Regions from separate parts of the Homo sapiens genome. Here regions 2 and 3 are each linked to region 1. The links come from fine-mapping of genetic effects on gene expression. A gene starts in region 1. Each other region holds a variant in brackets. All regions are shown on one strand. Distances are between the middles of the regions.

Evidence for each region. PIP is the estimated chance that this variant, and not a neighbour inherited with it, causes the effect.
Region 2: its variant is the best candidate, but not a certain one, in a credible set for the expression of FHIP1B in prefrontal cortex (BrainSeq, PIP 0.69).
Region 3: its variant is the best candidate, but not a certain one, in a credible set for the expression of FHIP1B in whole blood (TOPMed, PIP 0.61).

The regions. Positions count from the first base shown.
Region 1 is chr11:6,233,173-6,235,826 of GRCh38, reverse strand. It overlaps FHIP1B (FHF complex subunit HOOK interacting protein 1B), which reads left to right and starts at 1,191. Exons shown (of 12, transcript NM_001098794.2): 1 at 1,191-1,283. It also overlaps a transcript of CNGA4 not described here. RefSeq lists enhancers at 777-856, 254-944 and silencers at 987-1,286, 1,467-1,516.
Region 2 is chr11:6,209,193-6,211,999 of GRCh38, reverse strand. C11orf42 (chromosome 11 open reading frame 42) reads right to left here. Exons shown (of 3, transcript NM_173525.3): 2 at 1,352-2,150; 3 at 865-1,088. The coding sequence ends at 958. It overlaps FHIP1B (FHF complex subunit HOOK interacting protein 1B), which reads left to right. Exons shown (of 12, transcript NM_001098794.2): 12 at 133-655. The coding sequence ends at 494. Among named protein-coding and RNA genes, the nearest start is that of C11orf42, 5.0 kb to the right of the region's middle. The variant T/CT (reference allele first, on the strand shown) is at 1,143.
Region 3 is chr11:6,197,609-6,200,275 of GRCh38, reverse strand. It overlaps OR52W1 (olfactory receptor family 52 subfamily W member 1), which reads right to left and starts at 1,052. Exons shown (of 1, transcript NM_001005178.1): 1 at 90-1,052. The coding sequence starts at 1,052. The coding sequence ends at 90. RefSeq lists enhancers at 237-737, 738-1,238. The variant A/G (reference allele first, on the strand shown) is at 1,073.

The DNA of each region.
Region 1 (2,654 bases):
GCTGGGATTACAGGCGCGCGCCACTACGCCCAGTTAATTTTTGTATTTGTAGTAGGGACGGGGTTTCACTATGTTGGTCAGGCTGGTCTCGAACTCTTGACCTCGTGATCCGCCCGCCTCGGCCTCTCAAAGTGCTGGGATTACAGGCGTGAGCCACCGCGCCCAGCCGGTAAAGTACTTTTAAAACTACATGCCTTATCTGAAACTTCTATTTTTCTATTTTAGTTTATCTTACTCTTGCTTGTTTCCCAAGACTCGGCTTAGACACCGTCACCTCCCGGAAGTCTTCCCTAAGCTCCTTCACCGTACCTTCCTCTCATCCTCTATACATGCAAATCATGCTAAGTGCTGCTCCTAGGTGGCCCCCGTAGTAATGTACTTATTACACTACGCTGCAATTCTCTGAGGTCCTGGAGAGCAGAGGCCGGTTCTAATTGATCCGGAATCCAGCTGGGCATGCAGGCACTTATTCCGTGTTCCTTGACTAAGTGCTCAAGGGGTGACGGAGCAGCACAGCACAGCGGTGTTGGGGGAGCCAGGGGCAGTCACCGCTGGGGTACTAAAGTAGAGACCAAGCTATGCACGACGATGGAGCAAAATGAACTAGAGTGCCCGCAGTCAGCCCTCTCTAGGGCTCCACTTTTCCGCAGGCCCGGCCCACCTACTGATTCCTCCTCTCTTTTCGTGATAGCCTCGCCCCTCCACACCCACTCTTCCACTCCAAGCGTCTCCTGGAATCCATGGCCCCACCCCTTTCTCGCTCGTCTTTCTTCCGGCTCCATCTCTCCCAAGCCCCGCCCTTCTGATCTTTCCCTGCCTGTAAAAATCGCCTCTCCTTAGGTCCCGCCTTCTGCCCTCTGGTTCCACCTTTCCTTCCCGGGCTCCGCCTCCGCCCTGCCGGCCTCCACCTTCCCAGAGGCCTTCGCCTATGACACGCCGGAGTCCTTCTGAGGGGCGGGGTTTACGTACGAAGGGACGGAACCAAGAGGAGAGGCGGTGCTCCTCCCTCGGATAGCCGTCGGCGACCCCGCCCTTGCGTTTAGCCGTTGCCAGGAAACAAGCGTCCTTGCTCGGGTTTGGTCCGGCTCAGCCAATGAGCTGGCACGCCATTGCCCAGTCGTGCGACGCCGGGCGGTTGCGTGTGGTGCGCGGGGGCGCGGGCTGCGTGTGGCGCGGGGCGGGGCGCGGCTGGTGCGCTTGAGAAGCGATGGCGGCGGCCTGAACTCACCTAACACCGCAGCAGCAACCGGGCCCGGCCAGGTTCGGCGTTCCGTGAGTGAACGGTACGCATGGGCCAGAGGGCCTGGAGAGTCGTTTGTGGGGATGAGAGACTGGGAAAAGACGGTGACGGGTTTGGTTACTGTACTGGTTGTGAGGGGTTGGCAGGTGGTGAGGGTCCGGGTGTGAGTGTCTAAGATAGGGAAGGAGGGTGAGAGCTTACAGGTGAGTGGACAAATGAGGGGCTGTGAGAGGCTGGGTGCTTTCGGAGGTGCCAAGTTGAAGGGACTCCTGAACGCGGTTTACTAGGGCTGGGGCTACTGAGGGCTGGTGTGAAGGATACCCTGGGACTAGAGTGAGGGGTAAGGCCTGCGCGAGGAGAGAGAGAGTAAAAGGCGCAGGTGGGAGCCTGCGGGGTGGCGGCAAATTGGTGAGGGAGTTGAAGGCGAGGCATGGGAGGAGGGAATTAGGGCTTGTGAGACTTGGATAAAGGTGAGAGGTTGGTTCTGAGGCCTCCTTCGATGGACTGCCCTGTCCAGTGAGAGCAATAGTTTTAGACAAAGTAGGGCAGCTTAGATGGAAGTGTTGTGCACCTGACTCCTCTGCTCCCATGGACTTTCCATATTCTGGAGGACGAGAAAATGAAGGTGTCATAGGCAATAGTACTATGGTAATGAAAGTCATATTTGAGGCTCAGACTTCAACAGAGTAATCACAGAAACTTCAGTTCCTTCGAGTTCCTTCTCTGGACTGCATAGTTGAAGATGGGCCCTCTCATGAAGGGTTTTGCGCTGTGACAGCTTGTGTTTTCTCTCTACTTGCTTCTGGACAACCTTATTCCACTGTTGCTCCTTACCTGTGCTTAACTGTGGGTCTTTGATTGGATTGACCATATTCAGTTGCTAATTCTACTTTTATGGAGGTCATATGGTTTGCCCTATACAGTACTATATTTAGGATCCCAAACAGGATGGCCTTACTCTCCTTTCTTACAGTTGAATTTTTTAAAAAGCTAGTTTATATTATATTTAAAATGTGTGTTTGATGAGTTTTGACATGTGTACACATCTGTGAAATCATCATCAGTCTCAAGATACTGAACATTTTAGCCACCTGAAAATTTATCTCTTCCTCTCCACACCCTGTAGTTGGGTTCATCTTACTAGCATTCTTTTAGGTCCTCTTCTCCCCACCAACCCAAATGCACGTGAAATTCTGGAAAGTTGGTTTGGCATTCAGTGATAATGGCCACTTTCACACTACTAAATTTTCCTCTCTACTGCTAGTCAGCCATGGGGTTGGGACATCCTATTCTTTCCAGACTCAGAAAGAGTTAAGTCTTTCCTTAACTCTACAGTGGACAGGGAGAGACCATTTCCTGAGAATTAGACAGCCTCAGTCCCCATTCTTTTCCAGAGTCTTAGCTTCAGAGCCAA
Region 2 (2,807 bases), 24 kb after region 1:
TGTCCTTTTTTCCATTTCCTCAGAACCCTAAAGGAGAAGTCCAAGAACCTAGGGGGTGGGGGAATCTCCCCTCTCAGTCCAAGGGAGGTTCCCTGATCCCAGCACCTTCATGATACCCCTGTTTATTCCCAGTGAAGAGCCGGAGGCCATCCTTGGGGGAGTTACTCCTGCGGCATGCACACAGTCCAACCAGGGCCCGGCAGGCGGCACAATTGGTCCTTCAGCCTGGGCGAGACGGAGCAGGACTTGGCCTAAGTGGGGGCTCCCCTGGGGCTTCAACTCCAGTTCTACTCACCCGGGGCGGGGCCCCTGAACGCCAAGGTGAGGCTCTTCGAGTCAAGAATGCTGTCTACTGTGCAGTCATTTTCCCTGAATTTCTCAAGGAGTTGGCTGCCATCTCCCAGGCTCATGCCGTCACCTCGCCTTTCTTGTTGGAGACTTCAGAGGAAGGATCTGGCCCTCTCATCTCAGGCTGTGGGCCCCTCAATCCTTAACTTTCTTCCATGGACAATCAGGGCCATGGGTGGCCCGGGCTGGGGCTAGGGCACAGGCTCCTTTTTATGTTTGGAGGCAGTGGCAAAAGGACTTTTTAATTTATTTCAGATGAATGTTTTATGGAGAACTTGTTGCAATATGTATAAAAGGGAAATCTCTATTCTGTGCTCATTTTTCTTTCCCATTTTTTTCTGTGGGGCTGGGGCCCCAGAAAAGGTTGTACATAGTCGGGGAGGTGGTCAGAAGTATTTTCTCTTTGGTAAGGACATTGCTGCCAAGGTTTCAAGGTACCCCTTATGCCCTTAGAGGGTGAAGGGACTCTTCCCTCTTCTCTGGATCCCAGAAGGAATAAGCAGCATGGGCCCAGGATGGTTTGGGGGAGCAGCAGCTGATGTTTATTAGAGACCAGTACCCCTATGCCAGATCTTGGGGGCTTTGCCCCCGGAATCTTTTGCTTCAGCTTCAGTCGTCACTGTCGAACTCTGAGGATAGACCCTGCAGCAGGGGCAGGGACATGGAGTGCCCGTCGGGGTCCCTGGGGCCCCCACCCTGGGCTCCTGGTGGAGGGCTGCGGGGGCTGAAGAGCCAGTTCTCTGCCAGGGTTGGGGATAGTCACAGCTTGACTCATGGCTGGTCTTTTCCCCCCC[T/CT]AGCTTTTCCCTCTGGTCCTCTGTGCCATCCCAATCCCCTTCCTAGGGCCTCCTCATTCCATCTCACCCTCCCCAGTCTCCCTCATTCCATCTCTTTCACCAGAGCCCTGTGCTGAGTAATGGATTCCTCACATACTTAATTCTCATGCCTTCTCCCTCCTTCACTTTGTCCCTCCCATCCATCTCATCATCATTTCCCCTAGTAGTACCTGACAGTATCTGGGGCCCCCTCCAGAAGGGGTTTCGGCCCTTGTAGGAGAATCTGGTGGGTTTGTCCTCTGGCCCTTCCTGGGGAGGTGGCGTAGGTGGGGCTGGGACAGGTGGGGGCACATCAGCAGCTTCAGTTGTATCAGCAGGTGCTGATGTGGGGGCCAGAGGCGGCATGATGCTGAGGTTGGGTCTGACCCAGTTGGCCCCATGGGGCAATGGGTCTTTAGTGAGAGGCTTCTGTGGTCCCAGCACGCCCTTAGACTGCAGTGAAAACTTGAGGCAGGAGAAGGCAACAGGTAATGACCGAAGTAGCCGGAGGAGCTGGGGCTCACGGGCTGTAGACGTCAGCCCCAGCTGCAGCCAGGAACAAGAGAAGACCTGGTAGATGACATAGATGCTGTGGGTGCTTCGGAGCCAGGGAAGAGTCTGCTGTAGGCTCACCTGCCCTGGTGGCAGCAACAGGAAGGCAACCTTCTTGCGCAGGTCACCCATATGTAGGCGGATCTTGCAGGGCTGTCCATCCAACATTCGCGTCTCTTCATAGGCTCTCTCTGCTCGGCCATTTGGTGAGTATTCCCGAGTGCAGTGGGCGAAGGCACCCTCAGATCCTGCCTGCTCCAGGAGGCTTGGTAGTGGCCCCACTGGTTTCAGTGCCCTCCGGCCCTGCCGACCTGGCAAAGCCAGGCGGGTATGGGCTGGGCGGGACTGTTTTACCAGCACACCCAGTAGGTCATAGCAGGCTGCATCTGACAGGAAAGGTACTGCTACTGCATTGGGCCCAAAGTGCTCCTCGATGACCTGCAGGTGGCCAGTTTATAGGTCAGGGACTTAGGGTCAGAAGTTAACTGGTTGCCTACTTTAAATTGACCCCCAGGTTCACGTTCAGTTACATCTCTATAATGTGTTCAGATTTATGCTTTCTGCTTACCTCCCAGCTCTCCGGCAGCAAAACCTTGAATGTTTACGTGTCAAACTATCTAAGTACTGGGAAAACATAAAAGAATGAGACTTTGTCTTTGTCCTAATATAGTTTAGTCTACTGGAGAACACAAAAATGTAAACAGTCTGCTATGTAAAATATTAATAGAGAGCAAGGTGTGAAGGAGACAGGAAGTGATTGAACAGTCTTTACCTTTCATGGAAAGAGGATCAAGGAAGGTTTCTAGATGGTGATACTTGAGTTTTGAAGCAATTATCTAGGTAGGAGAATGGTCAATTCAGGCATAAGAGTCGGTGAAAAAACTTGAATTTACAAATCAAGGGGGGCACATTTAGGAACACATAATTTTATATTGCTGGTATGTATGGTATGAGGAGGGAAAGGCACACAGGAACTAGATTATGAAAGGCTTGTGTGTATGTCAAGTGAATTTTGTCCTGAAGGCAGTGGGAAGCCGCCTGAAGGCCTCTGGGTAGGAGGAACAGGATCAGATAGGTGTTTCTGAAAGCTAATTT
Region 3 (2,667 bases), 36 kb after region 1:
GGGATGAAAATAACATGATCCACACCCCCAGACTCCCCTCCGATTGTCCCCTCACCTCCACTCTTAGGCTCCATTGTTACCACTGGACATTACAACGGGCTTTTTCTGAATGTGAAGGTTTCCAGGAGTCGGTCTCTGATCTGCTTGGTGCGGGCCCCATAGATGAGGGGGTTGAGGGCAGGTGGCAGCAGCAAGTAGATGTTGGAGAGAAGGATGTGCACAGGCTTTGGGACAGTGTGATGACCAAAGCGGTGTGTGAGGTAGGAGAAGAGACCAGGTATGTAGAAGGCCAGAATGACACAGATGTGAGAACTACATGTACCAAAGGCCTTGGCATGGGCCTCCCGGGTAGGTAGCTGCAGCACAGCATGGGCAATGAGTCCATAGGAGCCAGTGATACCCAGAATATCCATACCTGAGATGGCCAGTGAAAGTGCCAGACCATATAAGTTGGTGGCCTGTGTGTTACCCACCACCAGTTCTACCACTGCCATGTGTGCACAATAGGTATGGCCTATGGTCTTGGCTTGGAAGTGCTCAAACTTTGCCACCAGCAGTGGGAAAGGTACAACAATAGCCACAGCTTTCAGTGCCAGGGCCAAGGCTGCATAACCCACACAGGCTTTGGTGACCAGGACAGGGTAGTGCAGTGGACGCCCTATTGCCGCAGCACGATCACAGGCCATGGCCAAAAGCACACCTGATTCCATGGCAGTCAGTGCATGTACAAAGAACATCTGGACCAGGCACACAGCATATGGCACAGATCGGGGCCCAAGCCACAGCACAGCCAGCAACCCTGGGGCTATAGATGTGGCTAAGCCCAGGTCTGTGGCTGCCAGGATGGCCAACAGTAGAAACATGGGCTGGTGCAGTGTGGAGTCTATCCACACCACTGCCGGCAGTGCTCCATTGCCCAGCAGGGCCAGCAGATAAATGGGCCCAAAGACCAGTGTCAGCCAAGTCTGGGCACTTCCTAGCCCTGGAAAGCCAGTCAGTATGAAGAAGTTTGGGTGTAGGAAGGTGGAATTGAGTTGTAGAGTTTCTGCCATTCTGTGGTGGGCACAACTTG[A/G]GGGCTCATGGGGGCATGACTCCTGACAGGGAAGATAAGGGGAGAGATTTTGGGGGTCTCACAGTGGCACAAACCCATCCATGGCATACGTGTAGGAGTAGTGCAGGGCTGGGAGGATCACAGGTTTATAACTTTTGGTTAGGGGGGTTTGGATGGATAATTAAGGTCGCAATTCTAGCTAAGATAGGAGAATCCTTTGCTCCTAAAAGTCTATATGTATTGTAGTGGGAGGAAGGGGTAGTGAGGAAGAGGCTGCCTGCTGCAGTGGTTGGTATAGATAGCCTGAGAGAGCCTTCTAATTGGATGTCAGCAGAGGGTGGAGTGGAGATGAATACTTTTCTTCCTCAGGGTCCAAATAGAGTCAGTCTCAGTCTCTATATGAGGAGAAAGCCAGTGCTGGGGGCAGGGTGGGGAATCAGGCTTCCGGCTGTCCTGTCCCTGCCTGTGTATCCTTGGGCAAGATCTCTGGACCTCAGCTTCTTCAGCTGTATAGGCCTGGTGGGTACAGTGATATTAAGGTTTGCCCAGCTCTGAGCAATTGCCCATTCTCAGCACCAACCATCCAGGAAGAGAGGAGGCAGAGTATAAAGAAAGGGAGAAACCGTAGTGGGAGGCAGATGGAATCTGGAGTGAATCTGGGAGCTTGGTGTGGCAAGGGAAAACTTGCTGGGTTTTTGGGGTGCAGGGTGCTTACGTTCTGAACTTGATGCTGAACACCAGCTGGAGAGTTGAAGTTGGGGCTGGGAAGCAACAGAGAGAGAGATGGCAGTACGAAACGGGACTTTTCTTCTCCGTTTCCTTTCCTTCTTCACGGTACAAAAGTGGGTCCCACTAGAGTCTCATTCCTGGCATGCCAGAGCGAGTGGAGGTGACATAGAGGGAGAAAATGGCACTCAACTCAGAGTAGCAGCCATCTGAGGAAGAAGCATCTCTGACATTGGAGGAGGCAGGACAAGTAGATTGACTTAGGTGGGATCCAGCCCACCTAAGAAGCTTAATACATGTTGAATGGATAAATGAATGAGGAAGAAATCACCAGCAGAAGGCTTGACTGGGAAAGATCTCGAGCACTGTGTGTTGGCAGCTTCTCTTCGCTTTAATCAGTGCCTGTGGGGCTCTTTATGTGGCTGTTCTACCTGCTTCCCTCAGGGCCTTTCTCCCTCCCACCTGTGCCACATTAACTCTGTTTTGTATCTCTTTGCTCAGTGCTGATGGGCTGGTGACTCAGGAAGTAGAGTAAGGAGGCAGAGATGGGGGCAAGCCAGGAAAGAGACTATCAGGTGGAAAGATCTGGGCAAGGAACACTTTCTCAGGGAGGTCTTTGCTGGCTCACTGAAGTCCGGGAGAAAATTCCTTGGTTTATTCTTTAATAGCATCTAGCCCACTCTGTTGTAATTTCTTGTCTCTCAATTCCCCACGAGACAAAAAGAGTTGCAGATATTGCTTTTTATTAGCTACAGTGTCTCTACTGCTTACCACAATGTCTGGCATGTAGTTAGCTATGAATAAATATATATTGCTTTTAAGTGTGGGACAGACTGCTAGTCCAAACAGCTTTTGCTGACTAATAGGGGCTCCTACAGTTTCAGGAGCTT